Homo sapiens: one gene and its partner. The protein of the gene in region 1 purifies or fractionates together with the protein of each later gene. This does not show direct contact. Each region holds a gene or a part of one and is shown on either strand. Other genes may lie near its edges.

Region 1 (15,667 bases):
ACCTCCACACCCCTGTGCCCTACCCACTCCCTCCCTCCCTCTTCTGTTTTTGATCTGCCACTTCCCCAAGCTTCTCAGGTTCTGTAACCTTGACCTGAGCCCTCCTTTCTGCAGGCCTTGAATTCTGTAGCACCCATGAGACTCCCCTAAGTATCCCTCCTATTTGATAGAGAGGTATGTTTCCATGACAGCAGTGTTTTCAAGTTGTGTTTGTTTTTTCTTTTTTACTTTCCTTTTTTTTAAAAAAAAACCAAACTCTTTCTTAAAATTGTAAGCAGGTGTTCATAGATAGATATAGTCTGCTTTGGTTGAAATAGGGGCAGGAGCATTAATCCATCTTGAATTGATTTTTGTATAAGGTGTAAGGAAGGGATCCAGTTGCAGCTTTCTACATATGGCTAGCCAGTTTTCCCAGCACCATTTATTAAATAGGGAATCCTTTCCCCATTGCTTGTTTTTCTCAGGTTTGTCAAAGATCAGATAGTTGTAGATATGCGGCATTATTTCTGAGGGCTCTGTTCTGTTCCATTGATATATATCTCTGTTTTGGTACCAGTACCATGCTGTTTTGGTTACTGTAGCCTTGTAGTATAGTTTGAAGTGAGGTAGTGTGATGCCTCCAGCTTTGTTCTTTTGGCTTAGGATTGACTTGGCGATGCGGGCTCTTTTTTGGTTCCATATGAACTTTGAAGTAGTTTTTTCCAATTCTGTGAAGAAAGGCATTGGTAGCTTGATGGGGATGGCATTGAATCTGTAAATTACCTTGGGCAGTATGGCCATTTTCACGATATTGATTCTTCCTATCCATGAGTATGGAATGTTCTTCCATTTGTTTGTATCCTCTTTTATTTCCTTGAGCAGCGGTTTGTAGTTCTCCTTGAAGAGGTCCTTCACATCCCTTGTAAGTTGGATTCCTAGGTATTTTATTCTCTTTGAAGCAATTGTGAATGGGAGTTCACTCATGATTTGGCTCTCTGTTTGTCTGTTGTTGGTGTATAAGAATGCTTGTGATTTCTGTACATTGATTTTGTATCCTGAGACTTTGCTGAAGTTGCTTATTAGCTTAAGGAGATTTTGGGCTGAGACGATGGGGTTTTCTAGATATACAATCATGTCATCTGCAAACAGGGACAATTTGACTTCCTCTTTTCCTAATTGAATACCCTTTATTTCCTTCTCCTGCCTAATTGCCCTGGCCAGAACTTCCAACACTATGTTGAATAGGAGCGGTGAGAGAGGGCATCCCTGTCTTGTGCCAGTTTTCAAAGGGAATGCTTCCAGTTTTTGCCCATTCAGTATGATATTGGCTGTGGGTTTGTCATAGATAGCTCTTATTATTTTGAAATATGTCCCATCAATACCTAATTTATTGAGAGTTTTTAGCATGAAAGGTTGTTGAATTTTGTCAAAGGCCTTTTCTGCATCTATTGAGATAATCATGTGGTTTTTGTCTTTGGCTCTGTTTATATGCTGGATTACATTTATTGATTTGTGTATATTGAACCAGCCTTGCATCCCAGGGATGAAGCCCACTTGATCATGGTGGATAAGCTTTTTGATGTGCTGCTGGATTCGGTTTGCCAGTATTTTATTGAGGATTTTTGCATCAATGTTCATCAAGGATATTGGTCTAAAATTCTCTTTTTTGGTTGTGTCTCTGCCAGGCTTTGGTATCAGAATGATGCTGGCCTCATAAAATGAGTTAGGGAGGATTCCCTCTTTTTCTATTGATTGAAATAGTTTCAGAAGAATGGTACCAGTTCCTCCTTGTAAAAAAAAAAAAAAAAGAAATAGGGGCAGGAGCAGGAGCAGGAGCACTGCCCAGTTAGCCTTCCCCTCATACCCTGTAGGAACACCTGAGTTTCTGGAAACCAGTTTGAAAACAACTGCCTAATAGTTTTCTTTATTGCATGTTTCCTTTATTGGGTCTGGGTAGTGTGCCCTAGATGGGGTTATCAGATTTATTTAATAAAAATACAGGATGCTAAGCTAAATTTTAACTTCAGACTTTTTAAAATAAATATTTTAGTATACCTGTGTTTCATACAGTATTTGGAGCATACTTACATAAAAAAATAATTTGTCATTTATCTGAAACTCAAAGTCAGTTGGGCATTCTGTACTTTTTCTGGCAACCCTAGCCCTAGAGAATATCAGGGCATTGGGTCACAAAGAAGCTGGAATCAGAGATAAGGAAAACAATAGAGATTCTATCCGTGACAACCGTGATACTCACCCCAAGGATTTTTCTTGTGTAGTAGTATTTGTCGGCCTTCTCATATTTCAGGAAGGCATCCACAAACAGGAAAACATTCAGCCCTAACCAAACAACCTAGAGAAAGAAAAAAAAACATGCAAAGAATAAAGTGAAATTTGAGTATGGGAAGGAGTAAATAAGGGATAGGGATAGCAATAGTGTCGCCGTTTTGGCTATTTTGTGTTTACCTGTTTTCATTTTAAATGAGTGCAATCCTGCTAGTATCTAACTGGCTTTCAGAGTGAGTTAGCACTTTGAGACATGCATTAGACTAGAGCAGGGTCAGCAAACTGAGGCCCATGGCCCATTACCTGTTTTGCCACAGCCTGCAAGCTCAGAATTGTTTTTTATATTTTATATTTTCAAATTTGCTAATGGTTGAGAAAATCGAAAGAAGAATATTTTGTGGCATGTGAAAGTTATATGAAATTCAAATTTCAGTGACCATAAATAAAGTGGTATTGGAACTTAGCCACTGCTACTCATTTTTGTATTGTTTATGGCTGTTTTTGTGATACAATGACGGAGTAGAGTAGTTGGGACAGAGACCATATGGCTTGCAAAGCCTAAAATATGTACTATCTAGATTTTTACAGAAACATTTGCCATTTCTTGGACTAGAGCATTCAAACTGTTGCACCTAAAAGATGGCAATAAGTGAATAAATGGATATCTGAAGAAACAAAGAACAAATTTAGCACCTATAACAATACCTAACTGAAAAGAACTAAACCATTCCAGATGGGCCTGCCTTTTTAATTACACCCTGACACACATTTTTCTGTTTTCAGATTGTGAGTCTTTTTTCAAATTAATCTATTTTTCCTTTGGACTTTTTTGAGCTCTTAAGACTGCTTTTGCCTGTTCCAAGTTCTGTCTCTGCACTGGCTAAAGGTGAAATTTGGAACTCACTGCCCATTGCCTTGAGGACCAACCAACTGGTCTCTAGCCCAAGTGTGGAGGTGCTAGTCTGTAATTCGACAGGTCTCCAGGGCGCTAGTATATATCCCTCGCCCCACAGTATGAGTCAGAACCATCTCAGCACAACAGGCAAAGGGCCTTTAGCCTAGGACATGGCCTATTCAGACTCCCTAGATCTAGACCACTCACACACCTTTAGTACTATAATATAGTGATTTAAAGTGTGATATTGGAGTCAAGTTGTAGCATCACCAATTAATAGCTCTATAATCTCAGACAGACATATGATTTAAATTTTCTAAACCTCAATTTCTTCACCTGCAAAATGAGGATAATAACAGGACCTACTTTATAGTAATGCTATGAGGCTTACGTCAGATAATGCGTGTAAAGTGATTAATGCAATGCTTGGGGCTTAGTAAGAGATCAATAAGTGCTAGCTACAGAGTTGTGTCACCACCGAACCTGCTTTACCAATCAATTTCTTCCTGCCTCCTTTGCTCAGTTACCCTTTTCCAGAGCTGAGTGTCTTCCAGAGAAACGTCTTTGAAAGAAAAGAAAGTCAACAGTCACAGACACCTCAAGAATTTGGAAGACAGAGGAGAGAAGTTTATTTAGAGGGAGCAGAAATATTTCTGGATCGCAAAGAGACACAGGGGCAAATAACTGTGTCAGCCCATCATCAATTGTAGGCAAGGCAAATGATGAAATACAGTGATATCTAGGAGTAAGGCATTCCATTCCCCATCTTAGCTGTCATTTCCTCCACTATGAACGTCAAAGAAGGTAAACTACAAGACCTGGGAGGAAGGAGGAATAAAACTATTTTTAAGTAATTTATTTTTTATTTAAAAATCAGTGCATAGGAGTATATGTCAGAGATAATGAGAAGTCTAAGCTTGCCAGCTGGTTTGGTGGGGGATGAAAATTCAAAGCTAGAGAGTTAAATGTGAGTCACCATCATAGCTGGTAAACTCTCCCAGCAAAAAATAAGAGAGGGGGAAAAAATGCAGGTAAATGTGGATTTTAGAGCTAGAAACACCCTTATATTTGTATCTAATCTAGTCACTTTATTAATCCCCTGCTCCCCTCCCCTGCCCAATTCCCCCCACCTACACACCCACAGGACCTGAAGTCTAGAGAGGATAAATAATTTGATCGAGATCACCCAGTTAGTAGCAGAATTCAAAGTACTTGCCAGGTTCCCTTTCTCCTAAACTAGTGTTCTTTCCATTATAGTGCAAAAGGAACTCAATATAAGGCATTGAGCATTTAAAATATGTCATGGGATAACCTGACAAAATAAGCACTTTTGTTAAATGTAAAACAAACAACCCTCCAGGGAAACTCCACATATTTTTCCCTGGAGCACCTGGTCGGGGGGCGGGGGGGTAGACAGGAATAAAAAGAAGCATCACACCTTCTCTCTTCTGTTTTGCCTGTGGGACCCAAAAGCAAAACAGGAGAAAAGAGAAAGAGTAATGAATGAAGATCTAGGAAAGTGAGAAAGGACACAGGGAGCCCCAGGCTCAACTGTGGCTCAGAAATGGAAGAATGAGAGTGGAGAGAGGTGTTAGAGTGTTAGGAGAAAGGGATTGTGCATACAAAGGGTGATAAAGGGGTTCTGGCCTGAACGTCATTGGGGAGCTGGGTTCGAGTGATGCCAATTCAGTCAATTCATTGTGTGACATCTAGGTCTTATTTTCCTTTGTACAATCAATAAGTTGGTTTACATCTGCACTATGCAATGCCACAGCCACTACCCACATGGGGCTGCTGAGCACTTGAAATGTGGCTAGTCCTCACTGAGATGTGCTGTGGGTATATATACACATCAGATTTGAAAGACTCAGTAAAAATAAAAATATGTAAATTAGCTTCTTAATATTTTCAATATTGAATACATACTGAAAGGATTTGTTGATATGTTGGGTTAAATGAATTATATTGTTAAATATTAACTTCACCTGTTTATTTTTACCTTTTCGGTGTAGGTATTAGAAAATTTAGGAATTACATTATGTGGTTTGCTATATTTCTAGTGGTCAGTACTGGGCCAGATGATCTCTAAGATCACTTTCATCTCAAACATTCAGTGACTTTTTGAAATCTTGATGGGACCAGTATAGGAAAGATAGAGAGAAATCAGCACTCATGGTAGTAGTTAGAAGTGAGATGGAAGAGAAAGGGAGATGACAGAAAATGAAAACAGATTGAAATTCCAAATACTTGTGATTTGACAACATGAACAATTGCATGTTATTTGCCTCTGTCCTCTCATCTGACCCACAGTTGTATTTTTTAACTAACTGGTCTTGATGAGCCCAATAATCGGCATGGAATCATCTTTCTCTTTCAAATTGCTTTACAAATATTAAAAAACATGATTTCTCCTTAATCCTTCCTAATTAATAGGAAGTCAAACATCACTTACCAGAAACAAAACTGAAAACCAGTGGTTAACCACCCAGTTTCCCATTGTCAAGAGGTGGTTTGGAGCCCTTCTAGGCAACAGGGAAGATTCAGCAATCCGGATTCTGGAGAGGTCCTTCAGGAATGGAACATTTGTCCAGCGCAGGGTCTGTGAGCCTTTAAGATGTGAAAAACACACACCTACCCCAAGAGTTCCTGGGAATGAATAAGTTTATTCTGCCTTCCTTCTCTGGACAGAACTGTGCTATCAGCTTAGATAGACCAGCCCTATCTATGAGAACCACAAGGGTTTTACCTGTGGGGATTTTACTGCTTCAGGAAATAGCAACATTCTTGGATGAAAATATTCTCTCTCATCATCTTATCAACATGACCTAATGTGAAGCATTGCCTTCCTAGATAAAAGATTTGCTAAAGTTTCTCATAAAAAAGATTATTAGTCTGGGTCTGTAAACAGATTACTTCAGGAGAAGTAGGGAGGGAAGCGTGTGTGGTAAGGAAGCTGTTTCAAAGTGCACTTTTCAAACTGTTGCCACATCTGCCGGCTGCCATTTGGATTTCAGCCTGGCTAGCTCAGAAACTTTAGCATACCAGTTCCCCTGGAGGATGATCTGTGGTTGACATATATGATGATGGCTTTGGGGAGAACTTGACTGGCTGGAAGGACAAGTGAAAAGAAGGGCCAAATAGAGCAAGAGAAAATTTAACAAGTATAAAAGTGCACTTTGGTTCAAAATAAACAGAGGCAGAGCACTCAAAAGAATGGAGATGATTGTCTTCTAGTATGATAGATTTACTAGAGTTGTGTGTTCAGCTCTGGGCACTGATTTTTTTTCCCTTTTCTAAAATGGTGAAATATACACAGAAGAGTATATAAAACATACATATGTAACTTAAAGAATAATTTTAAGGAATAAGTATCTATGTGTTCACTACTCAGATTAAAGAAAATAGACTATTTTTCTCCAGTATCTTAAAGCTCTTTGTATTTCCCTCCCTGATCACATCTATCTTCTTCCCCTCCTCTACCCCACCGGATGTAATCACTATCCTGAAATTTGGGGTAATCATTCTGTTATTTTTCTTTATATTTTTACTAACTATAATTGCATCCCTAAGCAATATATTGTTTAGTTTTTCCTGTTTTTGAACTTTTTGTAAATGAAACCTGGCAGTGTGTATGTATGCTTCTGTGGTTTGCTTCTTTCAACATTGGGTTTTTGAGATTCATACATGTACATGTAATTGCGGTTCACTTACACTGCTATCTAATATGCCATTGCATGAATGAATATACATTAATGTATTCATTCATCCTACTACTGATGGATATGATGATGGAACAATGTTGATCAAATGTCACACATATGCTACAGTTTCTCTAAGGTATATACCCAGGAGTAAAATTCCAGGGTCCTGAGATTTGCACATATTCTACTTTGCTGTGTAATTCCAAACCCGTTCCGAAGTGACCACCTAAATGTATACTACAGAGAGTTATGAATGAGAGTTCTACTTCCTCTACATGCTTACCAACCCTTGGTATTTTCCAGACTTTTTTGTTTTTATAATTCAAGTAAGTGTGGAAAACTATCGTATTATGATTTTAATTTGCATTTCCCTGATTACTAATGAGTTTGAGCATCTTTTAATTCAACTGCTGGCCATTTGAGTTTTCTCTTTTTAAAAGAGCCTATTCTGAGCCTATTCTACTTTTTGGTCTATCTTTCTATTGGTTTTTCTTTTGCTTTTAGATTCTTAGGGTTCTGTTTATAATCTTATACTAATCTTTTATTGCTTATGTTTATGGCTTGTCTTTTCAGTCTCTTAATAGTGTTTTCTGATAAATGGAAGTTCTTAATTTTAATGCACTCTGATTACCAGTCATTTCTTTTATGATTTATGCATTTTATGTCTTGTTTTAGAAATCCATCACTACCCAGATATCAAGATACTCTTTTATATTTTCTTCTAGAAATTTTATATTTTTGCATTTTACATTTATGTTTTGAATCCACCTGGAGCTGATTTTCATGTATGGTATCCAATTTACTACTTTTAAATATGGAAAACGAATTGCCCCAGCATCATTTTTGAAAAGTACTTTTTATTTTTATTTTTATTTTTTTGAGACAGGGTCTCACTCTGTCACCCAGGTTGGAGTACAGTGGTGTGATCTCCCTTCACTGCAACCTTCACCTCCTGGGTTCAAGTGATTCTCATGCCTTAGCCACCCGAGTAGCTGGGATTACAGGCAAGCGCCATCATGCCTGGCTAATTTTTGTATTTTTAGTAGAGACAGGGTTTTGCTGTGCTGGCCAGTCTGGTCTTGACCTCCTGGCCTCATGTGATCCACCCACGTGGGCCTCTCAAAGTGCTGGGATTACAGGCATGAGCCACTGCGCTCAGCCATTTTTGAAAAGTACTTTCAAAAATATACTTTCTTCGCTGATCTAAAATGTCAGTTCTATTATATATGAAATGTCTATATACACGAGTTTCTTCCGGAGCTCTCCATTCAGTTCTTCCATGCCACTGCCTTAATTACTAAGTCTTGACATCTGATAAGACAAGTTTCCCCACCTTGTTCTTCAAGAGTGCTTTGGCTATTCTTGACTTTTTGTTTGTTTGTTTCTTTGTTTTGGGGGGAGGGGGGGTTCTGTGTTTTGTTTTTATTCTTGGCCTTTTTCATTTTCATGTAAATTTTATAATCAAATTCTTGCGTCTCCTTTGTTATATTCACTTCTTCTTCTTTTTTTTTTTTCTTTGAGACGGAGTCTCGCTCTGTCGCCCAGGCTGGAGTGCAGTGGTGCAATCTCGGCTCACTGCAAGCTCCACCTCCCGGGTTCACGCCATTCTCCTGCCTCAGCCTCCCGAGTAGCTGGGACCACAGGCGCCCGCCACCACGCCTGGCTAATTTTTTCTATTTTTTAGTAGAGACGGGGTTTCACTGTGCTAGCCAGGATGGTCTCGACCTCCTCACCTCGTGATCCGCCTGCCTCGGCCTCCCAAAGTGCTGGGATTACAGGCATGAGCCACCGTGCCCAGCCTGTTATATCCACTTCTAAGAACTTTATATGTTTTCATGAGGTTGTAAATTATATATTTTAATTTTAATTTTTAATGATGGCTGTTAAAGATACAATTTGTTTTTACATATTGATTTTTATGCCCAGCAACATTGCTAAACTCACTTATTAATTGTAATAATATTTCTGTATTTTGTCTTACATTGTCTATAAACACAGTCACATTTTTCGCTCTAAACACAGTTTTATTTCTTTTTTCTAATTCTTTTTTTTTTTTTTGAGACGGAGTTTCCCTCTTGTTGCCCAGGCTGGAGTGCAATGGCTTACTGCAACGTCTGCCTCCCGGGTTCAAGCGATTCTCCTGCCTCAGCCTCCCGAGTAGCTGGGACTACAGGCGCCCACCACCATGCTCGGCTAATTTTTCTATTTTTAGTAGAGACTGGGTTTTACCATGTTGGCCAGGTAGGTCTGAAACACCTGACCTCAGGTGATACGCCTGCCTCGGCCTCCCAAAATGCTGGGATTACAGGCGTGAGCCACCGTGCCCAGCCTTCTTTTTTCTAATTCTTATAACTTTTATTTCTTTTTCTTCGCTTACTGCACTCACTAGAACTTCTAGTACAATGCTGCACAAAGGTAGAAGTAGTGATCCCCTTGCCTAATTCCCAATCTCAAAGGGGATTCTTCCATTTCACCCTTAAGTAGAATGTTTTGTATAGGTTTTGTAGATATACTGCTACATATTTTTATTTTACTTTACTTTAGGCACAAAAGCAAATATTTATTTAAAACAGAAAAGAAAGCACAGCACAATTAACAGATTTATTGAGGTATAATTTATATGCCATGAAATGTTCCCATTATAAGGAGTATAGCGCAATGCACAGCACATTTTATATTTATTGTAAAAAGCTGAAAAATCTCTTCAACATCACAAAACCCATAAAAACAACATTTTCATTAGCTGCTGAACACACCTGCAATTTAGTATCATAATGCCAGGTGAAATTGGCACAGTGGGTGGTAGGAGTTTTCCTGGAAGCCATTTCTACACTAAGGCAGCTATCAATCAGTTAACTAGATATAGAAGTGTCAGTGAACCACATAATATATATTCTCCTAAATCCAAACTAAATATACCACCAACACAACAACCTCTTATCTGTATTCCAGAAATGCTCATGGCCACTCCAGCATCACTTGACCTGAGGGGAAGTGTGACAGAGGGAAGTTGGAGTGGTAAGAGACAGTCAATCACTAGCAATGAAAATATTTTACATTTGTAAATTTTACAAAAACACTTGCCCGTGCCCAAGACCACACATTAAAAGAGAAACTAAAGCCTGTCCATGGAAGGGTGACCAAGATGATGTAATGAGTTGAAAGCATCCTATATTAGGAGGATTTAAAGAGTGTAGGGAATTTGGCCTGGAAAGAGGTTTATCGGGGACATGAGTTTATCTACATTTTTTTTAAGAAGATTTAGATTGTTTTGTATGTGACCCAAGGAGTCAACCAAGGAATAGAGGCTCTAAAGTAACACACTTTAGGTTGGGCATGGTGGCTCACGCCTATAATCCCAGCACTTTGGGAGGCTGAGGCGGGCAGATCACCTGGGGTCAGGAGTTTGAGACAAGCCTGGCTGGCCAACATGGCAAACCCCCATCTCTACCAAAAATACAAAAATTAGCCTGGCATGGTGGTGCATGCCTGTAGTCCCAGCTACTCGGGAGGCTGAGGCACTTGAATCGCTTGAATCCAGGAGGCGAGGGTTGTGGTGAGCCAAGGTCACGCCACTGCACTCCAGACTGGGCGAAAGAATAAGATTCTGTGTCAAAAAATAAAAATAAAAATAAATAAAGTAACACAATTTTTTTTCAATATAAAGCAGAATTTTCCAACACGGGTATTCAGAGAAGTAAAGAGGTAATGAGTTTCCTATTACTTGAGACTCTCAAGGAAAAATGGACAACCCCTTGTCAGCTTTTTATAAGGGGAATATCAGCACCAGGTAGATGGTTAACTAAATGTCCCTTAAATATACTCCAACATTGAGATCCTGTGATTCATAAAAGAATGATCTATAATCTGGATGACAATTTATGTATTATCTAAAGAATTATATATGCCATGCTGATTGGACCCTTATGTCTGTGAGGTAGGACCCCCATTCCCAATATCAGAGTACTAGGAAGTCTTTTGATAAGCTGGTGATCACAGAATCTGAGCTAAGATAGTCAGATGATCTTAACGGAATATTACTATTAAGCTGCAGCAGCAAACTCACTTGGCCCTTTTCAAGGTAAGATTACACCAGCAAATTCAACTAAAATATCCATGCCCCAAATCTGAAACCTCCCTCTCTTGGGCAATGCCGGACACACTAAAAACTTCTCACCATCAAGACATTTATGTGGCCAACAAACATACGAAAAAAAGCTCATCATCACTGGTCATTAGAGAAATGCAAATCAAAACCACAATGAGATGCCATCTCACGCCAGTTACAATGGTGATCATTAAAAAGTCTGGAAACAACAGATGCTGGCGAGGATGTGGAGAAATAGGAATGCTTTTACACTGTTGGTGGGAGTGTAAATTAGTTCAACCATTGTGAAAGACAGTGCGGTGATTCCTCAAGGATCTAGAACCAGAAATACCATTTGACCCAGCAATCCCATTACTGGGTATATACCCAAAGGATTAGAAATCATTCTACTATAAAGACACATGCACGTGTGTGTTTACTGCAGCACTATTTACAATAGCAAAGACTTGGAACCAACCCAAATGCCCATTAATAATAGACTGGATAAAGAAAATGTGGCACATATATACCATGGAATAGTATGCAGTCATAAAAAAGAATGAGTTCATGTCCTTTGCAGGGACATGGATGAAGCTGGAAACCATCATCCTCAGCAAACTAACACAGGAACAGAAAACCAAACACTGCATGTTCTCACTCATAAGTGGGAGTTGAACAATGAGAACACATGGGCACAGGGAGGGGAACATCACACACTGGGGCCTGTTGGGGGGTGGCAGGCAAGGGGAGGGAGAGCATGAGGACAAATACCTAATGCATGCAGGGCTTAAAAACTAGATTATGGGTTGATAGGTGCAGCAAACCACCATGGCACATGTATACCTATGTAACAAACCTGCACGTTCAGCACATGTATCCCAGAACTTAAAGTAAAATAAAAATAAGTTAAAATAAATAAACAAAACTTCTCACCATCAACCTCCCTTTTTTGTAAATTCTCCCAGAATTGCTTTCCTTCTGTTGGCTCTAGACATTATAATAGTCCCCTCCACCCTGTATTGCTTCACCTGTCTTAATGTTTGCATTTCCCAGGTTTATGGATTATGCGGCATTGACTAAATTTGAGGTTGCTTCCTGGAGATCTCTAGGGAGTACTTAAATGTCATCAGTAACTTATTCACAGTTTTACCATAGACTGCAGTCTTTTGGAAAGATTTCCTGTAGACGGTTGATCCCACCCATGGTAGGTGGATTCTTGCAAACTGTAAACACAAAGCCCTTACCTGACCTGCATGTTGTGTCTTCTCCCTGATCACTTGTGTCTGTCCTCATTTGTCCCAAATTTGCCTTTACAGTTACAACTCTTGTACACCTCTTCCAGGAATTAATATATAACAGAGAGTGTTGAATTACTTAACAGTTTAAACATGTGCTTAGGACATCAGAAAAAATTGTTTTGAGAATTATTTTAAGAATTTATAAAAGAATTTGATGGTTGGTTTTCAAAAACAAAAATTTAAGTAGTCATGGGGAAAATGATAGTTTGTTTTACTTATTTTATTGTTTATAATTACGTTTAATTTGAATCCATAGAGGATGGTGTTGGGAGGACATTCGTTTATTTATTTATTTATTTACTTATTTTAATTTTATTTTTTTTAAGACGGAGTCTTGCTCTGTTGCCCAGGCTGGAGTGCAGTGGCGCGATCTCGGCTCACTGCAAGCTCCGCTTCCCGGGTTCACGCCATTCTGCTGCCTCAGCCTCCCCAGTAGCTGGGACTACAGGCGCCCGCCACCGCGCCCGGCTAATTTTTTTTGCATTTTTAGTGGAGACGGGGTTTCACTGTGGTGTCGATCTCCTGACCTCGTGATCCACCCGCCTCGGCCTCCCAAAGTGCTGGGATTACAGGCGTAAGCCACCGCGCCTGGCCCATTTGTTTCTTTTAAATCTTAGAGCCTTTAAAGGTATTAATTTGGTCTTGATTACAGCGTCCAAAAATGAAACATCCCATAATGATAAGAGGGACTGATACATGTGGAATTATTTGAAATCAATTCTTTTTACTATGTTGGAGCAGAACCAGACCTCACCAAAGTAGCACCTTGTAAAGGCAATATGGTATGATGGAGCTGGATTTGACCTCCAGCTCCCCACTCACTATTAATGCTCCCTTGGAAAAGTCTAACTTTGCTCAGCCTCAGTTTCTTCATCTGTAACCTAGCGTACTGATCCCTCATGGAGAAAGTGTTCAAATTGTAGCCTATATTGATAGGCAGAAGGCAAAGTGGTGGTACGGAAGAGATGGTAGAGCAGTATGGTGTACTGGTTAGATATAGATTCCAGAGCCAGTCTACCTAGGTTTGAAGCCTGCCTCATTATCCATAAAATGGGTTGTTATAAGAATTAAATGAGTTAAAGTATGGAAAGCAATGAGAACACTGCCTGACATATAAAAAGCACTCCATAGTTGCTTGCTATAATAATGATGATGATGATGAGCCCTAAGAAAATATAAGCAGAGGACCTAAACTCAATGGTACTTTCTTTTGCTATTGAAAAGGGGAGCAGAAACTATAGATCAGAGACCATTATTATACAAACTTTGTAAGATTATGAAACTTTTGTCACTACCTTATGTCCGTCGGTTTTACCCTGTTTTCTCCAGAGTTTAGCAAATTTTAAATGAGCCTGTGTGCTTGGCTTCAATAGTAGCAAGAAACTGGGAAGGTGCAGAGTTTGTGTCTCATTCTGCAGCTAGGCTTGGGGAGTAATTACCAAAGAAGAAAACAGGTGGTATCCCCATGGCCATAAGGAAGAAAGAACACTGGGGGTGGCCCTAGGCCTGGAAAGGGGCCTGGGGACTCAATGATGGAAAGGTTTATGTAGTTCCCTGTTCTCCCTACTTCCATCACAGGGCTGTGGTGAGCATCAAATGAGCTGGTATGTATAACAGTGATTTTTAGGCCAGTAAGTATCATGGAGACATCACTAGAATAGCAATGAGTACTTTCATGTTACATCTGCTACTTTGGAAATCTGCCCTCAAAAGTGTATATGTGAGACTTATTCAGCTCAGAAACAATATTCAACTCTTGCCTTTTCTTGAAGACCGATTAAGCTCTGCCTCTTCCAGGAAGTCTTCTCTGACCACCTCAGTCATCATACCACACTGTCTTCCAATTTTTATAGCATGACATAGCATGAGTTCCTCATCTTCTTACCTCTCTCATAGCCTGTGAAACCTCCCATTGTTATTTACCCTTTTCTGAGCAAGTCCTATCTTATCCAGATTGCTCCTTAAGGCAGAGCACAAAGCTCTCTATGCACAGTAGATGTTCAATAAACATTTGTCATGTGATGGTGTGGTAGGCAGAATAATAGCCCCCTAAAGATGTCCACATCCTAAGCCTGTGAATACGTTACCTTGCATGGCAAAGGGGAATGAAGGTGGAATTAAGGTTGCTAATCAGCTGACCCCAAAGCAGGGAGATTATTATGGATTCTATGGGTGGCCTAATGTAATCACAAGGATCCTTAAAAATGGAAGAGGGACACAGAAGTCAGAGTGATGAGATATGAGAACATGACCCACTCTTACTGACTTTGAAGATAGAGAAAGGAAGCCAGGAGCCAAGGAATGTGGGCTGGAACTTCTCCCCCAGAGCCTCCAGAAAGGAATGCAGCCCTGTCAGCACCTTGATTTTAACCCAGTGAGACCCAATGCAGAATTATGACAACCAGAACCATAAGATAATAAGTGTGTGTTGCTTTAAGCCACCAAGTTTATAGTAATTTGTTATAGCAGCAATAGGAAAGTAATACAGATGGTAAAGAAAAGACTTTCCTGCAACCATATTTACTGGCTCTGAACTGACTACTCTGCCTGGGAAAGAAGATAAGCCGGGTGCAGTGGCTCACACCTGTAATCCCAGCATTTTGGGAGGCCGAGGCGGGCGAGTCACTTGAGCTCAGGAGTTTGAGACCAGCCTGGCCAACGTGGTGAAACCCCATCTCTACTAAAAACACAAAAAATTAGCCAGGCATGGTGGCGGGCACCTGTAATCCCAGCTAACTACCTGGGAGACTGAGGCAGGAGAATTGCTTGAGCCCTGGAGGCGGAGGTTGCAGTGAGCTGAGATCACGCCACTGCACTCCAGCCTGGGTGACAAAGCGAGACTCCGTCTCGAGAAAAAAAAAAAAGAAGAAGAAGATAAAGTCACAAGTTTTCAGAGCTAAAGGTTGACAATGTACAGTCCCTACCATCAGCATAATGTGCTGTGGATAAATGCATTGGAACTATTTCGGTTGCAAGTAAAGCAGTGTGTAAATGATTGGCCTTTTAAATAAGGAAATGCAACTGCTTTAAAAAAAAATCCTTTTCCTTTGTTGTATTAGGAGCACTTAACACATTCTTAGCGGAAGGGACCTCTCCCAGAACAGAATGCAAATATTTGCCCTCCCTTCCGGAGAGTACAAGATGAGACAATTTGAATTGTGAAGACTGAGCCCTCTTTGCAGTTAAGAAAAATATTTTCATGGTTAAGACTTTGGACGCTGCTTTGAAGCTCTTAACCATGGGTCATCAAGGTCTCTCAGTAAAAAAAAAAAAAAAAGAAAAAAGAAAATAAAAAGATAAATTGGTTGCTTCCCTTACTTTGGAATTTCAACCACTTTGGACATAACCATGAAATAACTGGTCGTTTAACAGTTTCATGGTTCCATTTCTAAAATAAGACAATGTTGCTTTTAATGGGACC
Region 2 (15,734 bases), about 100 Mb from region 1:
GGATGGGAGTTTGGACACACCTTATTATACCCCTCCTGCTTTGGCAGTTTAAACACAACCAACCAGCAAAAAGGTTAAAATCAACATCGTAAGACTGACAGAACAGACTCTGTGGCAAACAAGACCAAGGGCCACCTGAGGTGAGGGTTAAGTCACACACCGCCTACACTTAAAGAATAAACTACAGTTCCAACTGCCAAAGCATTTCTTTTTCTCCAGCAGCTAAATGTCCTTTTAGGTTATTCACTAGAGACCTCTGCAGAAACTCGTTTTTGAGATTCAAGAAGTAAATAAAGGATGTTTTTCTTTTTCTCTATTGCTTATCTTGGCCTCAAGCTCGCGCACGCAAGAAGACTCTCTCTCTCTCTCTCTCTCTATATATATATATATACTTTTTTTTTTTTTTTGAGACAGGGCCTTCCTCTGTTGCTCAGGCTGGTGAGCAGTGGTGCAATCTCAGCTCACAGTAATCTCCGACTCCCAGCTTCAAGCATTTCTCCTGCCTCAGCCTCCTGAGTAGCTGAGACTTCAGGTGCGCCACCACGCCTGGCTAATTTGTGTATTTTTAGCAGAGATGGGGTTTCGCCATGTTGCCCAGGCTGGTCTCGAACTCCTGAACTCAAGTGATCTGCCTGCCTCCAACTCCCAAATGCTGGAATCACAGGCGTGAGTCACCATGCCTGACCAATATAAACAATATTAAAACACCTGCAGCTTCCTGTCAGATCCTGATGAACAGACCCCTCTGTTCCACCAGCCGTAACTACAGCTTTGACTGGGAAAAGACTGATTCCAGGCCAGGTGTGGTGGCTCACGCCTGTCATCCCAGCACTTTGAGAGGCTGAGGCGGGTGGATCACCTGAGGTCAGGAGTTTGAGACCAGTCTAGCCAACAAGGTGAAAGCCTGCCTCTACTAAAAATACAAAAATTAGCCGGGGGTGGTGGTGTGCGCCTGTAATCACAGCTACTCGGGAGGCTGAGGGAGGAGAATCGCTTGAACCCGGGAGGCGGAGGTTGCAGTGAGCTGAGATTGCACCATTGCATCTCAGCCTGGGTGAGAGTGAGAATCTGTCTCAAAAAAAAAAAAAAAAAAAAAAAACTGATTGCAATCACTTTATCCTGGTAACTACTCACCACGGACTGGTTCTGGCCGGTTGACAGAGGCTGCAGAGTTGCTTCACCTTTTGACCTAGGGGGCCTAACCATAATGCATTTAAATGTTAAGTCTCCGCTCCAAGGTGAACTCGGGAGTAGGTAACATGCATGTTTGTTCAATACCCATGCGTCAGGACACCCTTGGTGAATATCCATAGCTCTTCCTATAACTTCTTGAATATATACACTTGGCCAACCCACTCAGCATAAATTCCCGTCTCATCTTTTCTTCCCTCCAAGTGCTTGTTTTTAGTTTTCTTTTTTTTTTTTTTTTTTTTTTTTTTGAGATGGAGTCTTGCTCTGGTGCCCAGGCTGGAGTGCAGCCTCTGCCTCCTGGGTTCCAGTGATTCTCCTGCCTCAGCCTCCCGGGTAGCTGAGATTACAGGTACATTAGCCAGAGGCTGCGCTTCTCACCTGCGGTGTATAATCACCTTCTATGAAATAAATGGCGTTTCTTCTAAGAAATACAGTGGGATTTTGGGAGGCCGAAGCGGGAGGATTGCTTGGACCCAGGAATTCCAGAGCACTCTAGGTAACATAGCAAGACCTCGTCTCTGCAAAAATAAATAAATAAATAAATAAACAAAAATTAGCCTGGCGTGATGGTGCACGCCTGTAATCCCAGCTACTGGGGAGGCTGAGGCAGGAAGTCCAACTGTGTTTGCGCCACTGCACTCCAGCCTAGGAGACAGAGCAAGACCCTGTCTCCAAAGAATTGTAAAATAAATAAAAAACGGACCAGGCGCAGTGACTCACGTCTGAAATCCCAGCACTTTGGGAGGCCAAGGCGGGAGGATCACTTGAGGTCAGGAGTTCGAGACCAGCCTGGCCCACATGGGGGAAACCCAGTCTCTACTAAAAATACAACATCAGCCAGGCGTGGTGGCACGTGCCTGTAAGTCCCAGCTCCTCGGGAGCCTGAGGCAGGAGAATCGCTTGAACCTGGGAGGCAGAGGTTGCAGTGAGCCAAGATCGCGCCATCGTACTCCAGCCTGGGCAACAGAGCAAAACTCTGTCTCAAAATTAAAACAAATTAAAATAATAAAATAAAATAAAATAGGAAGCCTTTCTACCTTTATAAATTGTGTGATTTTTAGGTTAACAACTGTCAATGACGGAATGTTCAGTACGTGGGACTTTCTTGTCTGTATGTGTGTGGTGGGGGGGGTCGGGGCGGGGAACAGACTCAATATGAAACCGTTTTGGGGTCTGACGCTCGCCCACCAGCCTCCATCGCGCAGCCACACGCCCACTATGCGACCAGAGCCACCTGCGCAGTTGTTAGCAGAAGGAAGAGTAACTTACTACTCTCGTCCCTGCGGATCTACGGGTGCCTCGAACGTGGGGCGCGTTCCTGGGGCTGGAGGCGGCGCCCAGGGGCAGCGCAGGGCCCGGCCCGGGGGTTCCCGGGGGTTCGAGCCCGCTGGGCCGGGGGGCGGCGAGCGGGGCTGTGGGCCAGGCCCCGGGCTGCTCCCCGTCCCCCGGGGTCGGCTGGTCCCGCCCGGGCGCCTTGATCCGGCGCAGGCAGTCCTGCAGCATCCGCTGCGTGCTGGCCTCGCTGAGCCAGTACAGGAACAGCTCGTCCACCTTCATCTTCAGGACCGGCTGCAGCACTTTGCCGGGCGGCATGGCGGGGGCTGGGCCCGCGGCGCCCCCGGACGCCCGCGCCCCGCCCCGCCCCGGGGGCTTCGGTCCGCCCCGGACCGACCTCGGTGATGCGAGCACGGCCCGCTGAGGGGGCGCGGCGCAGGGAACAGGGCCCGCGCCTCGGGAACTGCGCGGACTCGCGGGGCGCGGGGACCGAGGAGGGGGCGCGGTCCGGCCCGCGCTGCTCAGGGCAGCTTCAAAACGGGCGCGCCGGCCGCGCTCCCAAACAAGGGCGCCCGCGTTCACGTCACTGCGTCGCGTCATCGCGACGATGTCATCACGAGGCGACGCCGCCGCTAGCCACGCGCGCCCCGCGGCCCTCGGAGCTTTTGCAGGAGGCTTTGGTGGGGCCGAGCGGCTGCGGTGAGGACGAGGGAGGGGCTGTGGCGGCCGTACCGCCCGAGCTCTTTCTGCGTTTAGGATTTTTAGAGGCGCGGCCCATGGCGGCGTGGCAGTCCTAGAGCTGCGGAAATGCGAGCATGCGCAATGCGTGCCTGCCAGAGCGAGGAGAGGGTGGAACCTCCGCATGGAGCATGCGCCGTGCATAGCGGTGGAGGAGCGGAGTTCGGGAGGCCGGTCGGGTGAGCGTGCGCAATGGCTGCCCGCGGGGCGCAAGCCAGAGGCTGGGAGGTGTGTGAGCGGGTGGGGCTGGAGGACGGGAGTGCGCCTGCGCAGTGGGAGGCACCGGGAACGAGCGAGCATGCGGGGTGCGCGCCCGCCGAGCTCGGGAGCGAGCGTGCGTCCTACGGGAGCGCGCGAGGAAAAGATCAAACTTTTCAATAACAGCGGGCTACCTGGGACCCAAAGGGCCCCGTTTACTTTAGCTTTGCTTATCAAACAGTAGAGACAGGTTGGAGGAGTTGGACCCCTTTAAACGTTGGTGTTCAGGGATGAGCGTGAAGTGCGTTGAAAATTGCAAAAATCATCCACGTCCAGGGAGGTGACATTAGTTAAATAACTTTACCCAATGGTCGTTTTTGTTTCTGCTTTTAACAGTATCCATAAAAACACTGCATTATCATCTGTCTGGCACACATGCACCTGTTTCCTTTACATCTTGCCCCGCTTTTTATTCATTTTTTATCAAAATAGGGTTTCACCTGGTGTTGCACCCTGTTAGAGAGTAATTTCAAGGTCTTTTATGAGCCAGGTTCTCCTACTTCTGAGCTGCATAAATCGAGCCAGACTCAATAAGTAACCCTTGGCCGGGCGCGGTGGCTCAAGTCTGTAATCCCGGCACTTTGGGAGGCTGAAGCGGGCAGATCACGAAGTCAGGAGTTCGAGACCAGCCTGGCCAGCATAGTGAAACCGCCCCCACCATCTCTACTAAAAATAGAAAAATTAGCCGGGCATAGTAGCGTGTGCCTGTAGTCCCAGCTACTCGGGAGGCTGTGGCGGGAGAATTGCTTGAACCCAGGAGGTGGAGGTTGCAGTGAGCTGAGATCACACCATTGCACTCCAGCCTGGGCGACAGAGCCAGACTTTGTCTCAAAAAAAAAAAAAATAACTCTTTTTTTAGTTTTATTTTTTTTTTGAGTTGGAGTCTCGCTCTGTCGCCCAGGCTGGAGTGCGATGGCAAGATCTCAGCTCACTGTAACCTCCGCCTCCCGGGTTCAAGGGATCCTCCTGCCTCAGCCTCCCGAGTAGCTGGGATTACAGGCGCCCGCCACCACGCCTGGCTAATTTTTGTATTTTTGGTAGAGACAGGGTTTCACCGTATTAGCCAGGATGGTCTCGAACTCCTGACCTCAAGTGATCCACCCGCCTCGGCCTCCCAAAGTGCTGGGATTACAGGCGTGAGCTACCACGCCCGGCCTAAATAACTCTTTTTGTTCGTATGAGACAGGGTTTTGCTCCGTCACCCAGGCTGCGATCTTAGCTGAGTGCAGCCTTGATCTCCTGGCTCAAGCGATCCTCCCACCTCAGCCTTCCAAGCAGCTGGGACAACAGGCATGCGCCACCATGCCTGGCTCATTTTTAATTTTATTGTTTATAGAGACGAGGTGTTGCTGGTCTCACACTCCTGGCCTCAAGCAATCTTCCTGCCTTTGCCTCTGTCTCTGCCTCCCAAAGCGTTGGGATTACAGGCGTGAGCCACCGCACCCGATTTAAATCACTCATAAACGATAGTTTTGTGTTGTGTACATAATGATTTGAATTTCAGTTTGTGTTTCGTGATTGGATATAAAAATCCGAGTGTACTTGGTCAGAAGAGCGCCATCACGCAGGAATTCTGTGAAGTTATTTTTCCTAATTGGGAAGCAACCGTTTGTGTGTGTGTGCGATGCTGTGATTTCTGGAGGGAAGTGAATATATTAATACAGTTCTCTGTTTGAGTATGTATCGGACACAGACGTCTTTTCAAGGAACAAACGTGCTTTTCATTCTGGGTGTTTCGATGAGCTGCGAGTCACTGTTGGAAGCATCACTGCAGTTTTGAGGGGAAAGGGTTTCCTTTGAATGCCTGCACAAGAGGCCTTTCTCTGCCAGGTTACTGGGGCACAGTGTAGTGAGGCCCAGGGCCAACAGGACAGAAATCAACTCAGGGCAGAAACAGAATGCGCCTTCAGTCTGCGCTGGGGCCCGGGGGCCCACTCCGTGCAGGCTTTGCTCTGGGAGAACAAAGAGGTGCTGTCGGGCCCCCAAGGCTGGCAGGGCCTGAGGTGTTGCAGAGTTTGCTGGGATGTGGCCAGCTGCAATTATCCAAGCTGCTCCACAGCCGGATGGACGCCCTGCCCATTCGGGTCTGTCCGTCTTGCAGGGGTGGTGGGTGGCCACCAGAATTGTCCTGGGGAGAGAAAGGTGAGGGCAGGCCGGGAGATTGCAGTGGCTCATGCCTGTCATCCCAGCACTTTGGGAGGCCGAGACGGTGGATCACCTGAGGTCAGGGGTTCAAGACCAGCCTGGCCAACATGGTGAAACCCCCGTCTCTACAAAAATACAAAAATTAGCCAGGCACGGTGGCTCACACCTGTCATCCCAGCACTTTGGGAGGCCGAGGTGGTGGATCACCTGAGGTCAGGAGTTCGAGACCAGCCTGGCCAACATGGTGAAACCCCGTCTCTACAAAAATACAAAAATTAGCCAGGCATGGTGGCTCACACCTGTCATCCCAGCACTTTGGGAGGCCGAGGCAGGAGGATTGTTTAAGCCCAGGAGGTCAAGACCAGCCTTGGCAACATGGCGAGCCCCATCTCTAGAGAATATTTAAAAATTAGCTGAGCATCCTGGCGTGTGCCTGTGGTCCCAGCTACTCGGGAGGCTGAGGTAGGAGGATCGTTTGAGCCTGGGAGGTTGAGGCTTCAGTGAGCCGAGATCTCACCACCGCTCTCCAGCCGAGGCAGGAATGAAAGACTCTGTCCCTAAAAGCATTAAATTTTAAAAAGCAGCCAGATATCGTGGCTCACACCTGTTATCCCAGCACTTTGGGAAGCTGAGGTGGGAGGATCACCTGAGGTCAGGAGTTCGAGACCAGCCTGACCAACATGCTGAAACCCCGTCTCTACAAAAATACAAAAATTAGCCAGACGTGGTGGCTCACACCTGTCATCCCAGCACTTTGGGAAGCTGAGGCAGGCAGATCACCTGAGGTCAGGAGTTCGAGACCAGCCTGGCCAACATGGTGAAACCCCGTCTTTACAAAAATAGAAAAATTAGCTGGGCATGATGGCGGGTGCCTGTAATCCCAGCTACTTGGGAGACTGAGGCAGAAGAATCACTTGAACCCAGGAGACAGACGTTGCAGTGAGCCGAGATCACAGCATTGCACTCCAGCCTGGACAGCAGAGCGAGACTCCCTCTCGAAAAAATAAAAATAAAAATAAAATAAAAAGCGAGAATGGGGAGGGAAGAGTAGCGAGGAAGATTCCGGAAGACTCTGCTCCTCTGTGGGATGTAGGTCCAGGAACAAAGAGCTGGGTCAGCGCTTCCCAGGGAGGTGAGGAAGGAGGGAGCCACAACGGTTGTAGAGGGAGAGAAGCTCCTTCCTTCATCCACCTGAGCCCGGGTCTCCTGTGTGGCCACAGCCTCTGCAGCCTCTGCCCCACCTGCAGCTGCTCAGAAATGCAAACTCACCCACTGTATGACATGCTCTGGATCTCAGTCGGCCTTCGCCCCGCAGACCTGGGTGGTTGATCGAACACTAAAGCTCCAGACCTGGAGATGCCTCAGAGGAAGCACCTGGCAAGTAGGATCTCCCTGGTCCTGCGCCGACCCAAAGCTCCCAGCTAGGTGCGTGCAGTGAGAGGTCAAAGAGGGATCAAGTTTATATCTGCCGCTTGCATTCCGCACGATGACTTAAAACAAACAAACAAAACAAACAAACAAAAAAAAACAAAAAACCCAGCCGAGCACAGTGTCATCCCAGCACTTTGGGAGGCCGACAGGGGTGGATCACGAGGTCAAGAGATCGAAACCAGCCTGGCCAACGTGGTGAAACCCCGTCTCTACTAAAAATACAAATATTAGCTGGGCGTGGTGGCGGGCACCTGTAACCCTAGCAACTCGGGAGGCTGAGGCAGGAGAATCACTTGAACCCGGGAGGCGGAGCTTGCAGTGAACAGAGATCATGCCCCTGTACTCCAGCCTGGCGACAGAGCGAGACTCTGTCTCAAAATGAATAAATAAATAGGAAAGTAGTGTGGGTCTGCATTCTGCAGGTTTTGGAAACACATTTCCGAGTGCATATTTCAGGTGAGGAGAGGTGGGGACTCCAGGCAGCGTGCACAGTTTAGACTCTAACCGTGGGCCGGGAGTGGTGGCTCACTCCTATAATCCCAGCACTTTGGGAGGCCGAGGTGGGCGGATCACAAGGTCAGGAGTTCGAGACCAGCCTGGCCAATATGGTGAAGCCCCATCTGTACTAAAAATCCAAAAATTAGCCAGATGTGGTGGCGTGCACCTGTCATCCCAGCTACTGGGGAGGCTGAGGCAGGAGAATCGCTTGAACCCGGTGGAGGCGGAGGTTGCAGTGAGCCGAGATCGCGCTGCTGTACTCCAGCCTGGGTGACAGAGCGAGACTCCCTCCCAAAAAAAGAAACCACCGTAACTGTGGCAGTAAGAGGCCAGGAACTCTCACAGATACCTCGTCCAAAACCGGCAAAGGAGAGGATGGAACATTTGCTGTAGAGGTTTTCCTGCCTCTTCATAACTCCTTGAGGCTGTGTCCTCATCCATCTTCCAGAAACCAAAAACCCTTCACACATCGCCCCTTTTGTCCCGAGCGGCGCCCGCTGCCACCTGCTTGGCAAAATAAAACGTAAGTGGAAAAATGCTCCCTTTTCCATTTTCCTCTCTAATTGAATTCTCTCCTGACCTCTCGGTTCCCCACGGCTGTGTTTCAGGTTTTGATGATAAGGAAAAGAACTCTGTATTTGGATAATACGATTTTCAGCAACCTTCAACTCAATTTCCTCTCCCCGGAGACAGTGTATCTTATAGGATAGAATGAAATCCCTTATTCATAGGGAAAAAGTTCCAATTTAATCTGAATATTCAGCGTGCCGCCGTGGCCGGGGTGATGGATGGCGTATGGAAATATCACAGTTCAAGCAATCAGATGTCAGAATGCACTCTGCTACTGGAAGAAATAATGACGCCTATCCAATTTTCTATAAGGCGCAGAAATGCACGTTGCATCGTGAGGACCCCGGCTTTCTCCTATTACCTTACTAATCACATCTCCATTTAAACACAGAACAGAAAAGGAAGCGTGGTCACAAATTAAGAATTAATGGAAGTGAGACTCCGCAATGGATTCGGGGCCGAGGGCCAAAGGCGGCCGCCACGTGCCGCTATTTACATGAAGTCACAGAGATGACGGGGATGAGCGGGGTCCCCTTGTCAGAAGCTGCTGGGCCAGATGAACCTGACAAGTATCTCCTAAGAAGGATTTAGAAAAGGGGAAGATGAAATCTTTGGAGGTAATGGAGAATTAGAAGCATGTCATTACCTATAAATCCTGCGGCCCTGCACACGCTGTTGACAGCCCGGAAGATGAGACTGGCTGAGAGGAAAAAGATTCTGAGCCTGGAACAAGCGGACCCAGATTCTAGGTGGCCAGGCTGTGTGGTTGCTTTTATCATTCCGGGAGACTTTCGGGAGGAAATGTTTGCAAAGAGCACGCAGATGGGGAAATGTTTGCAAAGAGCACGCAGATGGCATTTTCTTTTCTCTCTATTTTTTTTTTTTTGAGACGTAGTTTTTGCTCTTGTCGCCCAGGTTGGAGCCGCCTCCCGGGTTCAAGCGATTCTCCTGCCTCAGCCTCCCAAGTAGCTGGGATTACAGGCACCTGCCACCACGCCCGGCTACCTTTTATATTTTTAGTAGAGACTGGGTTTTGCCGCGTTGGCCAGGCTGGTCTCGAACTCCCGACCTCAGGAGATCTGCCCGTCTCGGCCTCCGAAAAGTGCTGGGATTACAGATGTGAGTCACCGCGCCTGGCCAGCATTTTGTATCACCCCTAACTGCATCTATTTTGGTGTTGTTCATGATAATAATAAATGTCATGCATATCTCTGATTGAACTTGGCCCGTGCTTGAGCTCATTAGAAACAGGTTTTCCTATGTGTCATCTCTTATTTTTCTTGGTAATACTTGGAGCTGAGATTTCTTTTTCTCTCTCTTTCTTCCTCTCTCTTTCTCTCTTTCTTCCTCTCTCTTTCTCTCTTCCTTCCTCTCTCTTTCTCTCTTCCTTCCGAGACAGGGTCTCACTCCGTTACCCAGGCTGGAGTGCGGTTGTACGATCACAGCTGCTGTCTTGACCTCCTAGGCTCAAGTGATCCTCCACCCTCAGCCTCCCGAGTAGCTGAGACTGCAGGCATGCACCGCCATGCCCGCCTAATTTTTTTATTTTTTTCTAGAGATGGGGTCTGACTATGTTGCCCAGGCTGGTCTCAAACTCTTGGCCTCAAGCAATCCTCCTGCCTCGACCTCCCAAAGTGCTGGGATTACAGGCGTGAGCTACCGCACGCAGCCTTGAATCCTTTTAATAAGTACTTTCCTCTTATCCACGACCCAGAACATCACACTGTAGACAGTTGTTTAGGGTTTTGAAAGATTTATATTTTTAATTTTTTTTTTTTTTTTGAGACAGTCTTGCTCTTTTGCCCAGGCCGGACTGCAGTGGCACAATCTCGGCTCACTGCAAGCTCCACCTCCCGGGTTCACGCCATTCTCCTGCCTCAGCCTCCCGAGTAGCTGGGACCACAGGTGCCCACCACCACGCCCGGCTAATTTTTTGTATTTTTAGTAGAGGTGGGATTTCACCGTGTTAGTCAGGATGGTCTCGATCTCCTAGCCTTGTGATCCGCCCGCCTCAGCCTCACGAAGTGCTGGGATGACAGGCGTGAGCCACCGCGCCCGGCCAATTTTTTTTTTGAGCTAGGATCTCACTCTGTCACCAGGTTGGAGTGCAGTGGTGCGATCTCAGCTCACTGCAACCTCCGCCTCCCAGGCTCAAGCGATCCTCCCACCTCAGCCTCCCAATTAGCTGGGACCACAGGCACCTGCCACCACACCTGGCTAATTTTTTTTGTAGAGACGGGGTTTTGACATGTTGTCCAGGCTGGTCTCAAACTCCTGAGCTCAAGCAATCTACTGGTCTCGGCCTCCCAAAGTGCGGAGATGACCACCATGAGTGACCGTGCCAGGCCTCTGTTTTTAATTTTGTAATTGAGATACATTCCACATAACATAAAAGGAACCGTTTTAAAGTGAACAGGGGCATTTAAAACATCCACAATGGCGTACCACCACCTCTGTCTAGTTCCGGAACACTTGCGCTGGGCATGGTGGTTCACGCCTGTCATCCCAGCACTTTGGGAGGCCGAGGCGGGCGGATCACCTGAGGTCAGGAGTTCAAAACCAGCCTGGCCAACATGACGAAACCCCATCTCTACTAAAAATACAGAAGTTAGCTGGGTTTGGTGGCTGGTGCCTGTAATCCCAGATACTTGGGAGGCTGAGGCAGGAGAATCACTTGAGCCTGGGAGGCGGAGGTTGCAGTGAGCCGAGATCACGCCACTGCGCTCCAGGCTGGGCCACAGAGCGAGACCCGGTCTCAAAAATAAACAAACAAACCAACAACAACAAAAGGTCTGGAGCATTTTCTTCACCCCAAAAGTAAACCCTGTCCCCATTAACAGTCATTCGTCCCCCTCCCCATCCCCTGGCAACCACCCATCCACTTTCTGCCTCCATGGATTTGCCTGTTCTGGACCTTTCCTAGAAATGGAATCTTACTCTATGTGGCCTTTTGTGTCTGGCTTCTCTCACGGAGTGTGACATCCTCAAGGCTCATCCACATTGCAGCCTGTGTCACAGCCTCGTTCCTTTTCATGGCTGCATACTATTCCACCATGTGGATGGACCACATTGTGCTAATCCACCCATCCACTGGTGGACACTTGAGTGGTTTCTGCTTTTGGGCCGTTACGAAATCCAGCTACTGTGAAACAGTTCACTTTTATTTTATTTTATTTATTTATTTTTTTGAGATGGAGTCTCGCTATCTCGCCTGTGCTATAGTGGCAGAATCTCGGCTCACTGCAAGCTCCGCCTCCCAGGTTCAAGTGACTCTCCTGCCTCAGCCTCCCGAGTAGCTGGGATTACAGTCACCCACCAGCATGCCCAGCTAATTTTTGTAGTTTTAGTAGAGACAGGGTTTCACCATGTTGGCCGGGCTGGTCTCGAACTCCTGACCTCAGGTGATCCACCCGTCTCAGTCTCCCAAAGTGCTGGGATGTTGCAGGCGTGAGCCACCGCGCTGGCCTCTAGGTGATTCTTTAACTAGAACGATAGATATCGGACTTTTGCTATGGGGTGGATTTTCCTCCTAATCTGAAATGAGGCAAAAAGTCTTAGCATGTCAGATGTGACGCCTTCTTTTATTTCGCTCAGCATAAATTTTAAGCAAATTGAGAATGGAGCCTGGGTACCCATTTCGGTAAAAGCTTTGTTTTTTTTTTTCTGCGTAAGACCTACATTTGACTCAGAGTGTAGTTGGTGAAATGCACATTTTTCTTAATGACAGAAGGACGTATTTCTTTCTTTCTTTCTTTCTTTTTTTTTTTGAGACAGACTGTCACTCTGTCGCCCAGGCTGGAATGCAGTGTCGTGATCTCAGCTCACTGCAAGCTCCGCCTCCCGGGTTCACGCCATTCTCCTGCCTCAGCCTCCCTAGTAGCTGGGACTACAGGCACCCGCCACCACGCCCGGCTAATTTTTTGTATTTTTAATAGAGACAGGGTTTCACCATGTTAGCCAGGATGGTCTCGATCTCCTGACCTCGTGATCCGCCTGCCTCAGTCTCCCACAGTGCTGGGATTACAGGCGTGAGTTACCGTGCCCGGCCGAAATGCACATTTTTCTGAATGACAGAAGGATGTATTTCTTTTTTTTTTTCTTTTTTTGAGACAGAGTCTCGCTCTGTCACCCAGGCTGGAGTGCAGTGGCGCGATCTCGGCTCACTGCAAGCTCCACCTCCCGGGTTCATGCCATTCTCCTGCCTCAGCCGCCTGAGTAGCTGGGACTACAGGCGCCCGCCACCACGCCCGGCTAATTTTTTTGTATTTTTAGTAGAGACGGGGTTTCACCGTGTTAGCCAGGATGGTCTCGATCTCCTGACCTCGTGAGCCGCCCACCTCGGCCTCCTAAAGTGCTGGGATTTACAGGCGTGAGCCACTGCGCCCGGCCAGAAGGACGTATTTCTGATAGCCAGGGGTAGTGATTTACAGCACTGTAGTACAGAAAACTGTTTTTTTCCTCTTTGTAAAAGGAGTAGTTGCTGATTGGAGAAAACTTGGGAAGTACAGAGAGTATTCAAAAATCAGGGCTGGGCTTTGGGAGGCTGAGGCAGGCGGATCACAAGGTCAGGAGTTCGTGACCAGCCTGACCAACATGGTGAAACCCCGTCTCTACTAAAAATACAAAATTAGCTGGGTGGGGTGGTGGGCACCTGTAATCCCAGCTACTCAGGAGGCTGAGGCAGGAGAACCACTTGAACCCAGGAGGCGGAGGTTGCAATGAGCCGAGATTGCACCACTGCACTCCAGCCTGGGCAACAGAGCGAGATGCCATCTGAAAAAAAAAAAAAAAAAAAAAAAGCCGGGCCGGATGGCTCCTGCCTGTAATCCCAGTACTTTGGGAGGCTGAGGTGAGAGGATCACTGGAGCCTAGGAATTTGAGATGAGCTTGGGCAACATAGCAAGACCCCATCTCTACCAAAAAGCAAAATTAGCTGGGCATGGTGGCCCATGCTGTAGTCCCAGCTACTCGGGAGGCTGAGGCAGGCGGATTACTTGATCCCAGGAGTTTGAAACTAGTCTGGGCAACGTAGTGAGATGCCATCTCTACCCCCCCCCCAAAAAAAATTAGCCCAGCATGGTGGTGTGCACCTGTAGTCCTAGCTACTCGGGAGGCTGAGGTGGGAGGATCACTTGAGCCCAGGAGGTCAAGGCTGCAGTGAGCCGAGATCACACCATTGCATTCCAGCCTGGGCAACAGAGCAAGACCCTGTCTCACATAAAATAAAATAAATAGGCCGGGCGCAGTGGCTCATGCCTGTCATCCCACACTTTGTGAGGCCGAGGCGGGCGGATCACGAGGTCAGGAGTTTGAGACCATCCTGGCCAACATGGTGAAACCCCGTCTCTACTAAAAATACAAAAAAAAAAAAATAGCCGGGCATGGTGGCGGGCGCCTGTAGTCCCAGCTACTCGGGAGGACGAGGCAGGAGAATGGCGTGAACCCGGGAGACGGAGCGTGCAGTGAGCCGAGATCGTGCCACTGCACTCCAGCCTGGGCGACAGAGCGAGACTCCGTCTCAAAAAAAAAAAAAAAGTCCAGACATGGTTGTTCAACAGCACAGAGGGACGTCTTGCTGAGAAGTGGCCGGACGAGGCTGCCCCAGACACCGCAGCCCTCTCCTCCTGCCCCCCACACCCTCCAGGACTGAAGAGGCCGTAGGCTCGGCCGGCAGCATCTGCTCCCTTTGTCCTCCAAAGGAACCCGTGTGTGGAAGGAATGCCTCCGGGGAGAACAGCTGACGTCCGGTGCCGTTTTGGCAGCACGGAACCCCAGTTATTTTCAGATGTCTTGTTCGTGCCCCAGAGGTCAGGGACCAGCAGCTTTCAGGAAGCCTCGGCCAGGCACTGCGTTAACTCCGCGATGACTTTCTGGCTGCAGAATCCCAACTATGCAATTCACTCTTAATCCCCAGCTTCAAGGCACTGTCAGGCGTTTCCGTGACAAAAACTCTCTCTTTTTTTTTTCTTTTCTTCTTTTGTTTTTTTTTTTTTTTTTTTTGAAATGGAGTCTTGCTCTGTCACCCAGGCTGGAGTGCAGTGGTGTTATCTCTGCTCACAGCAACCTCCGCCTCCCGGGTTCAAGCGATTCTCCTGCCTCAGCCTCCCGAGTAGCTGGGACTACAGGCACCCGCCACCACGCCCGGCTAATATTTTGTATTCCTTGTAGAGATGGGGTTTCAGCATCTCTACGCTATTTCCAAATAAGGTCCCAGGCTGGGGGCGGTGGCTCACACCTATAATGTTGGCCAGGCTGGTCTCGACCTCCTGACCTCAAGCGATCCACCCGCCTCGGCCTCCCAAAATGCCGGGATGACAGGCGTAAGCCAACGCGCCCGGCCAGAAACCTGCTATATTCTGCACCGTTTTTCCGGGTCCAGGCAGACGTGGGTCCCTGTGGTTTCAGAGCACAAGTGGTGTTTTATGGAATCATCTTCGCTGTGGCAAGCACACTATGGTAGATGGGATAGGGTGGGTGTTGGTGGTGAGGAAGAGGTCGTGCCCGTCCGTGGATGACGTGGGAAGCTCTCGAAGAGTTGCTGGCATTTGTACCTGTTTGCACGCAGCAGCGCTCTGAGTGGCAGAGACAGGATGTCCCCCAGATCCCACGTCCCCGCAGTTGTTAGTGAGACGGATGCCTCGGGATGTGCCTTGGTCTCTGGTTTGAGAACGTTTCTGTTGACTTGCCATTTTCTAACCACGGGGCGCACAGCAGAGTCAGAACTGGGTTACAGAACGTGGGCTATGGACTCCAGTTGCCTTTCTGACCTACTTTATTTTGTTTTGTTATTTTATTTTATTTATTTATTTATTTTTTGAGACGGAGTCTCGCTCTGTCGCCCAGGCTGGAGTGCAGTGGTGCGATCTCGGCTCACTGCAAGCTCCGCCTCCCGGGTTCACACCATTCTCCTGCCTCAGCCTCCCGAGTAGCTGGGACTACAGGCGCCCGCCACCACACCCGGCTAATTTTTTGTATTTTTAGTAGAGACGGGGTTTCACCGTGTTGGCCAGGCTGGTCTCAAACTCCTGACCTCAAGTGATCGGCCCACCTTGGCCTCCCAAAGTGCTGGGATTACAGGCGTGAGCCATCACGTCCGGCCTTCAAGTACACTTTCTGTTGAATGCATACTGCTTTCTCTCCAGCATAAAGTTAAAAAATCCTGAATTGCACCATTGGAAGCTGGGGACTGTCTGTATGCAATATTATGTATAGTTTGATTTCTTTTTTTGCATTTTTTTTTTAAATTTTTTTGAGACAGAGTTACACTCTTGTTGCCCAGGCTGGAGTGCAGTGGCACGATCTCAGCTCACTGCAACCTCCACCTCCCGGGTTCAAGCAATTCTCCTGCCTCAGTCTCCCAAGTAGCTGGGATGACAGGCGTGAGCCACCACGCCCGGCTAATTTTGTATTTTTAGTGGAGATGGGGTTTCTCCATGTTGGCCAGGCTGGTCTCGAACTCCTGACCTCGTGATCCGCTCGCCTCAGCCACCCAAAGTGCTGAGATAACAGGCGTGAGCCACCGTGCCTGGCTAATTTTGTATTTTTAGTGGAGATGGGGTTTCTCCATGTTGGCCAGGCTGGTCTCGAACTCCTGACCTCGTGATCCGCTCGCCTCAGCCACCCAAAGT

Evidence for each region.
Region 2: the proteins of NOX1 (region 1) and PPP2R3B purify together in Homo sapiens (affinity purification with mass spectrometry; 2 studies listed by BioGRID and IntAct, with this or other methods). This does not show direct contact.

The regions. Positions count from the first base shown.
Region 1 is NC_000023.11:100,868,483-100,884,149, forward strand, and holds the start of NOX1 (NADPH oxidase 1), read right to left. Parts: upstream 5,878-15,667; 5' UTR 5,658-5,877; coding exon 5,613-5,657; intron 2,333-5,612; coding exon 2,237-2,332; intron 1-2,236. UniProt on the Homo sapiens protein: NADPH oxidase that catalyzes the generation of superoxide from molecular oxygen utilizing NADPH as an electron donor.
Region 2 is NC_000023.11:383,908-399,641, forward strand, and holds the start of PPP2R3B (serine/threonine-protein phosphatase 2A regulatory subunit B'' subunit beta), read right to left. Parts: upstream 3,001-15,734; 5' UTR 2,785-3,000; coding exon 2,461-2,784; intron 1,199-2,460; exon of another isoform or gene 1,135-1,198; intron 1-1,134. UniProt on the Homo sapiens protein: The B regulatory subunit might modulate substrate selectivity and catalytic activity, and might also direct the localization of the catalytic enzyme to a particular subcellular compartment.